Linked DNA regions of Homo sapiens. The main gene of each other region encodes a partner of the protein of the gene in region 2 in a complex. Each region holds a gene or a part of one and is shown on either strand. Other genes may lie near its edges.

Region 1 (3,748 bases), on a different chromosome or scaffold from region 2:
TTTTAGTAGAGACGGGGTTTCTCCATGTTGGTCAGGCTGGTCTCAAGCTCCCGATCTCAGGTGATCTGCCTGCCTTGGCCTCCCAAAGTGTTGGGATTAGAGGTGTGAGCCACTGTGCCCGACCCCGGCCTACATTTTCTTTATCCATTCATCTGTTGATGGACATTTAGTTTGATTTCATATCTGCCTATTGTGAACAGTGCTGCAATAGTGTGTGTGTGTTTTTTTTAAGAGACATTGGGGGTGGGGGTTGAGGGATGGGCTATTGCCCAGACTGGGCTCAACTGATCTTCCCATCCTGGCCTCCCATGTAACTGGGACTACAGGTGCTCACTACTATGCTGGGCTAATTTTTTCATTTTTGTGGAGACCAGGTCTCTCTCTGTTGCCCAGGCCAGTCCCTAAATATTTTCAACCTGCAGCTGGTTGAATTCACGGACGCAAACTCGCATACACAGAGGGCTCACTGTAATCAGAGTATGAAAGAAACATGTAGGAAGGCAAATCAAGAAAGAACGCAGGCCGGGCGCAGTGGCTTACGCCTGCAATTCCAGCATTTTGGGAGGCCGAGGCAGGCGGATCACTTGAGGTCGGGAGTTTGTGACCAGCCTGGCCAACATGGTGAAACCCTGTCTCTACTAAACATACAAAAAATTAGCCAGGCATGGTCATGGACAGCTGTAATCCCAGCTACCTGGGAAGCTGAAGGAAGAGAAACCGCCTGGGAGGCGGAGGTTACAGTGAGCCGAGACTGCACCACTGTAATCCAGCCTGAGTGACAGAGGAAAAAAAAGAGAATGCAGAATTGGGGACACAGAGGAGGGAAGAGTTTCTTATACCTGTTGTCTGGAAGCTGCAATGGGAAGGGCCAAGCTCTTGGGGTGGAGTCAACATGAAGGCCTGGGTAGGTTCATCCTCCATGCTCTGGACTGCTGTACAGGAAAAGATGGCCTAAGTTCATCTCCTCCATACTACTGTAGGGTTCCATTCCTGGTCTCCTACCCTACCCATACTAGCCTTTACCCTTCAAGGACCACCAGTCTAATCTCCCAGCTCCCACTGGTACAGGATTCAAATAACACAGAAGTCCTCACCTTCCAGGCCCTGATTCTCCAGAAAGCACTGGGTAGCTTGTAGGTCCAGATCTTCAGAATCTGGTCGGGGAGGAATATAAGACAGTTTAAAACAAAAATCATACCTGACACTAAACTCCTTAAATAATCTCTACCTTTCTCTCCCCAACCCCAGCTGTTAGAACCCTGGTTGATTTCAGAGGTCTAGGAAGGAAGGCCAGCACTTACCACCATAGTTGTCTTCAGAGTCCTTGGTCCCACCCACATGTTGTTCTCTCTCCCTTCCTGTGGGGACCTGGGCTCCCTCTCTCTGTGGCTGGGTGGATTCCCCTAGAGTGTCTGTGTCCACCACCAGATCTGTGAGGTTCTCTCTTGAGATAGGGAGGTCCTGCTCCACTTGTGCCACAGGTGGCCCACCCTGGGCCCCCACCTCATGAGCTCTCTCCTGCTTAAGAACAGCTGCAGCCCACTCTGCCCCAGCATCCCCTTCTGCTGGAAGCTGGCTCTTTCTTACATCTGCAACTACTGAGGCTGTTAGGGAGGTGCCCTCCTCTGCATCTGTTTCACAGTCCCCATGCAGAGGCCAGGCTTCCTCTAGAGATACCACAAGCAGCTTTGCTGGTCCCCCAACTGCTTTCACATCTGTTTGATTTGTCCCCTCCACAGACACCTGATGCTTCTTTATATGTATAATGGCTGACCCTGGCGGGACTTCCTTCTCCACTTGTGTGTTGATGTCCACTGTGGTGGAGGCTTGGCTTCTCTCCAGGTGGATCCCAGGTGAGCTCTTATCTGCTTCCACACTGTCATCACTGTCCCCAAAAGGAGGTTGGTCCTTTTCTGAATGTGCTCTAACAAGGGCTCTAATCTTTGTGTGATCCTTGAGGACAGCTTCTCTATTTTCCACTGGGAGCTCTTCCTCCTCCACGTCTGTGTCACTGTCTCTCTCAGTGGTGGTTTGGCTTCGCTGCAGAAGGACCACACGTTGGGGCATGTCCTCTTCTGCATCTCTGTTCCATATAGCAGGCTGGCTCTCTTTCAGATGTGCCAAAGTCAGCGCTGCTGAGACTTCTTCCTCGTCATCTGTATCGCTGTTGATAACCATGGAAGCTTGGCTTTTCTCCAGAGGGACAGCCTGTGGGGCCTTGCCTTCTTCCACATCTGTATCACTACCAGCCTGGCTCTCCTGCAGATGGGCCAGGCCTGGTGCTCCAGGACCCCTTGTACCTACTCCATGGAAGATCTTCCTCTTCTTCATAGGAATGACAACTGGGGTTGCTGGGATCCTCTCTTCTTCCGCATCAGTGTCGCTGTCGATGAAGCCAAAAGGCTGAGCCCTTTCCAAATGGACCTCAGCTGGCCTTCCAGGAGGCCTGCTGTCATCATCCACATCTGTGTCACTGTCCTCTCCAGGAGGTTGGCTCCTCTCCAGAATCACCCCAGCTGGAACCACCCCATTCCCTGCACCCCTCTTGACTTTTGTATCATTGTCCCTCTCCTTCACTAAAGGCTGATCCTTTTCAAGCTGGATTTCAGTTACAACTTCAGCTTCAGACTGCTTTGCCTCTACAGTGGCACCTCTTCTGGCAGCTGAGGAGGCCTCCTCTGTGGCTGGTTGCTGACCTTCTTCCACATCTGTGTCACTGTTCAAATTGAAGGCAAAAGGCGGCCCAAGGCCGCCCAGGACCGGGGAATGCCCCTCTTCATCACTGTGAAGGGAAGAAAAGAGAGTCTATAGAATTTATTTCCCTGGAAGGGATACCCCAACTCAACTGTGAGCTCCTTGAGGGGAGACACAAGGTAGCATATTTCTTCTTCTGTTTCCAATTTGTTTTCCACTTGGCACATCAGATGTGCTCCATAAAAATTCAGCTGAGTGAATGAATATGTATGGTTCCCCAGCCCCAACTCTCATGATAATCATCTCTTTTAGAGATTGATCCTCCAGCCCCTGGTTCTTCCTCATTTTGAAGACTCAGGTGTCTGACTCTTTGGCACTCACCTCTCTGGAACTATCACAGAGGAAGATGTGGTCCTTGATTTTTTTACCATACGCCTTTCAGAAAGAAAATCTGTCAAGAACAGAAAGGAATGAGTTGACAATTGTACACTCATTATTCCTGTCTCCTCATTCTCCCTGCCAATATACAAACTTACCTACTTCCTCCTCCGAGTCCTCAGCCAACAGAAGCCTCTGGGGTTGAGTTTCTCCCTGTACTCTGGGTGTCTCTTCTACTGTCAGAGGGCCCCGGGAGACAAAGGGCAGAGAGACATCCAGGCGATGGTACTGGCAGAGCAAGTCAGCAAAGAGAATCAATTCCTGGTCCCTCAGACGGTGACTCACCCCAGGGCTCAAAACCTTAGGAGGTCTCAGGATTTGAGTACCATTAAGGCTCCCACAGTCTCGGAGGATAGGTGCCTTGTCCCAGGCTAAGATTTCAATCTCTGCATGTTGTTTGGAGATAGATGGAAAGGGCAGGGCCACAGAGCAGTCAGGCATTCGGCCTACCACATTCTTCCCGAGGTGTAGTGGGAAATCTAAGAATTAGAGAGGTAGATAAGCTCCAAGATCAGAGTCCTGGCCTGTCATTAGGAAAAAGTGCCTATTAGGTACTCTACTACTCACTCAAGGCCTCCATATGCATTAGAAAAATAAAAGGCCCTAGGACATCTAG
Region 2 (3,748 bases):
TATTACTACAGTTCTGATTATTATTTACCTGAGGAAAGAGCTAGTAGAAGTGATGCTTGGTTTAAATTTTTGGTGCTTTCCAGTATGGTACCGAAGAAATAAAAACTCACAAAATAAATAAGGTCCTCAGAGTTAAAGACTTTTCCCCAGAAGAGGTTGTTGGTATAAATAAAAAAAACAAGGAATTCATATGCTGTATTTGTACACTAAGAACAATGTTTTGAGACATGTAAATCTTATCACTCAGAAAATATTTTGTTGGCTATAAAGAAAACGCATCGTAAACTGAAACAGAACTGAATAAAGTGAACCTTTACCACAATTAAAATATTTTAAATTCACCCTATTATGAAAACTTAATAATAAATTCATTTATCCTTAAGTGTAAGAGTAATACATATTCGACACAGTAAAGGACAATGCCATTTCTGAAACAAAAGATCATGTGCAATGAAAACAAAGTAACATTTTGCAGAGTAAGAAAAAGTAAAGAGCCTGTGAACCGAAACAGATGACCTTTTCTTATATATAAAGCTTCAGTTTTTAGCACAACCAGCACCTTATGAATAAAGTTCTCAATAACATTTGTTGATATACTGTTTGATGACTAAACGACAGGAATATTGTTGGTGCTGTTAAAACCAAGGCACATTTCCTTGTGTGTAGTGATTAAAATCTGTTAAATGTACATTTTTAAAAAACCTCTGCCCTCTGTCCCCTTCTTGCTCTCTTGCCTCTAACAGACCTGCACGTACAAAAATAAAAGTAGATGGTGACGTGAGTTTATGATTTACATTAATTTCCCTACTCGGAGCATTTTTCACTAAGTCTTTAGAGGTTTTAAGATTCAAACACTATGTAAGAAGAATTATGGTTTGAACTACGTAACAATTACCTAGACATCTTTTGGACTTCAGTTAACCTGTAAGTAAAATGAGCATCTTTAACTTTTCCACGGGGCTTTGGAGAACGGGTTCTTCCTCATAAACGCTTTCATATACTCAGACACGAGGCGCGGTAGAAGATCAAGCGTATCCATCAATTTGAGAGCTTTTCACGACCTCAGTTTACCCACTTAGGGAAACGGGCGTATTAACTTGTTTCCTAGGGGACCCGGGGGTGAAATTAATTAGCGTGTTTAAAATGCTCTGAGATCCAAAGATGAAAGGAAATGTGAAAGACGCGCAGAGATGATGACAACAATCATAACAATAAAAAGAATGACTAACTTGAAGTCTGCGTTATGTAAGGGAGGAAAAGAAGTTATCAGATCCGCACAAACAAAAGGGAAACCCACCGCCCCTTTTGTTTCTCCCATTTCCCTCTCCTCCCCGCCACCCGCAGAGCTCCCCTCTCGCAGCCGGAGCGCGCGGCCAGCCAGGCGCGGGGCTCGGAGTTGGCCGCCGCGCGCCCCGCTCCCGGGCGGAGGGGGAGGCCGCGTAGGGCCGGTTCCTGACAAAGGCGCTTCCTCGAGCCAGGGCGCGGGATGCAGGCGCCGCAAACTCCGCTCCCCGCCGCAGCGGGGGCGCGCAGGCGGGCGGGGAGAGCCGGCTGCTGGCCGCCGGGGAAGCCGCCGAGGAAGTTGCGCGCCCGCCCTCCCCGCGCCCCTCGGCGGCCCCGCCGCCATCCATCCCGCGGCGCCCCGCGGTCACACTTACCGGACAATTGCTGGTGGCCGGGATCCCAGAGCGGCCCCCGAGACCCGAGGCGAGAGGGTGAAGTGTTGTGCGCGGGGAGCGCGAGCAGACAGCCCGCCGTTCCGCCGCTGCCCTCCGCGCCCGCCAGCCGAGCCCAGCGAGGGGAAGTTGACCACGGAGCCGAGCGCTGAGGAGCCGCGGACGCAGGGAGAGGCGTTGGGGCTGCTTTGTGGTGCGCTCCCGGAGGGCTGGGGACCAATTCGACCGCACCGCGGGACTAGGGCTGCTGCCGCTGCTGCTAGTGGAGGCGGCGGCGGCGCCCCCCGACGGTCCCTCCGCCTCACACCGCCTCTGGGTCACTGACATACACTCGCAAGGAGGGGAGGGGTCTAGCCGGGGGGCGGGGCCTGAGGGAGGGGACCGGGCAGGGCCACAGCGGAAGGCGGTGTCGCCGCACCGAGAAGGCTCTTGGGAATTGTAGTTCTCCGGTTGAAGAAAAAAGGGATTCATTGTTGTCCAGCACCCTACCAGGCTCGCTCTGCACTGAGCATGCTCGAGGGCGAGGTTTGGACCGCCCCCTCCCACCGTTACCATGGTCACCGACACACTTAGCGAACGTGTTCAGTGCTGCTGTTGGCTGAACAAGGACGGTCTTGTATTATGGTGTTGTTGGGGATCCAACCCTTAGACGGTCCTTCCTACTTTTCTCCACCTCCAACTCCTAGCCTTACCAGTCATAAGTACCCAGTGAGGTCTGACTTTCTCTCCATATTTCAGTCTTCCCTGCTGCGTAATTTATCTTCCACAAACCCTAAATCACAAATACCTCTGTCCCTCACTTCCCTCAATTGAATCTTCTCCGGCTAAATTCAATTTTCTTTACCTAAGACTTGTCGAAATGTAGTTGTTTCCAGTAATTGAACAATTAGGTTATAAAACTTAGGAATATCACCACTATCAAAGTCCCGTAATTAATTACTTTGCTCAGTTAGTCACATCTAACTTTAAGATTAGCAAAGGCAAAGTACAGAATTAAGACCCCTATATTTTACTTGATTACTATAAAAGAATCCGGGTTCGTTCATTTTAAGGCCTACAATTTTTAAGACATACAAATTTCATAAAGTATACGTTCAAAAGACAAGTTGAAAATTGTTTATGTGTATTGGCCAACTTTAGTTTGGTAATAAGAGAAGTCTGAACCAAGGTATGAGTATGTTGTTGGGCTGGTCAGCTAAGTCTACACCCATCTTGGGCACCCAGGTGTGGAAAGGTGGTAGGGAGGAGGGTGGAGAAAGGCAGGACACATTACTGGCTCTCCGGAGAGCTAAAGGCAACGCGTCCTGAGCGCTTTTGTTTTCCTTCTCCACCTACCTAGAACCCCACACCCTGGAAGAAAAAGATTAATGCTTAGGAATCAGACACACTTTTGGAGCAAGGCTTTCAGAGAGTCTCAAGATCAGAAATCCTTATATCTACAGACTATATAATTATACACTCATTCAAAAAATGCTTGTTGAGTGTCTACTTGTGCTAGGCACTGTTTTGAGCCCCAGAAATAGAGATACAAAAATGTAAAAGAAACATTCTTATTTTCAGAGTGCTTACTATGCAAAGGAGGAGACAGGTAAATAGACTTAATTTGAGAAGTACTACAATAGGAAAATGCAAAGCTACCCACAGATGTGGGCAAAATCAGGAAATGCTTCAAAGATCACTTGAGATAACTAGGAATTAACATGTTTGTGTATTTTGGTAGGGGAGGAGGAAGAGAGAGGTGGGTGAGAGCATTGGGGGTGGTGTTGGGGAGAGCATCAAGCACAAATACCTAAAGGTGTGAGACCCAAACGTATTTTGGTTCAGCAAATAGTTGCATTGCTGGCAGTAGAATGGAGTTGGGGGAGTGGCAAGAGGAGACACTGAAAAAGGTAAGGGAGACAGCTTAGGTAATGAAGAATCTTGCACAATATGCTAAGGAACATGAACCTTTTCCTGGAAACAATGGGAAGCCACACAAGGATTGTAAGCAGATGGAATTTTGATAAGATAGGCATTTTAGAAAGATCACTCTATGGAGTGTGGTATGTATGGGACCTGTTACAGTATTACAG

The links.
Region 1: the proteins of PELI1 (region 2) and MDC1 are in contact, whole or in part, in a crystal structure (PDB 9IF9), measured with the Homo sapiens proteins. Residues at the interface, in NP_065702.2 of Homo sapiens: Arg104, Ser105, Thr106, Glu107, Thr115, Asp116, Val130, Gln131, Ser132, Thr133, Ile134, Ser135, Arg136, Phe137, Thr185, Asn186, Thr221, Arg222, Ser223, Ala224, Cys247; in NP_055456.2 of Homo sapiens: Glu761, Asp762, Ser763, Glu764, Thr765, Gln766, Pro767, Phe768, Asp769.

What each region holds. Positions count from the first base shown.
Region 1 is NC_000006.12:30,710,573-30,714,320, forward strand, and holds part of MDC1 (mediator of DNA damage checkpoint protein 1), read right to left. Parts: intron 3,612-3,748; coding exon 3,231-3,611; intron 3,146-3,230; coding exon 3,076-3,145; intron 2,783-3,075; coding exon 1,302-2,782; intron 1,155-1,301; coding exon 1,095-1,154; intron 933-1,094; coding exon 840-932; intron 1-839. UniProt on the Homo sapiens protein: Histone reader protein required for checkpoint-mediated cell cycle arrest in response to DNA damage within both the S phase and G2/M phases of the cell cycle.
Region 2 is NC_000002.12:64,142,423-64,146,170, forward strand, and holds the start of PELI1 (E3 ubiquitin-protein ligase pellino homolog 1), read right to left. Parts: upstream 1,999-3,748; 5' UTR 1,659-1,998; intron 1,105-1,658; exon of another isoform or gene 896-1,104; intron 1-895. UniProt on the Homo sapiens protein: E3 ubiquitin ligase catalyzing the covalent attachment of ubiquitin moieties onto substrate proteins. Involved in the TLR and IL-1 signaling pathways via interaction with the complex containing IRAK kinases and TRAF6.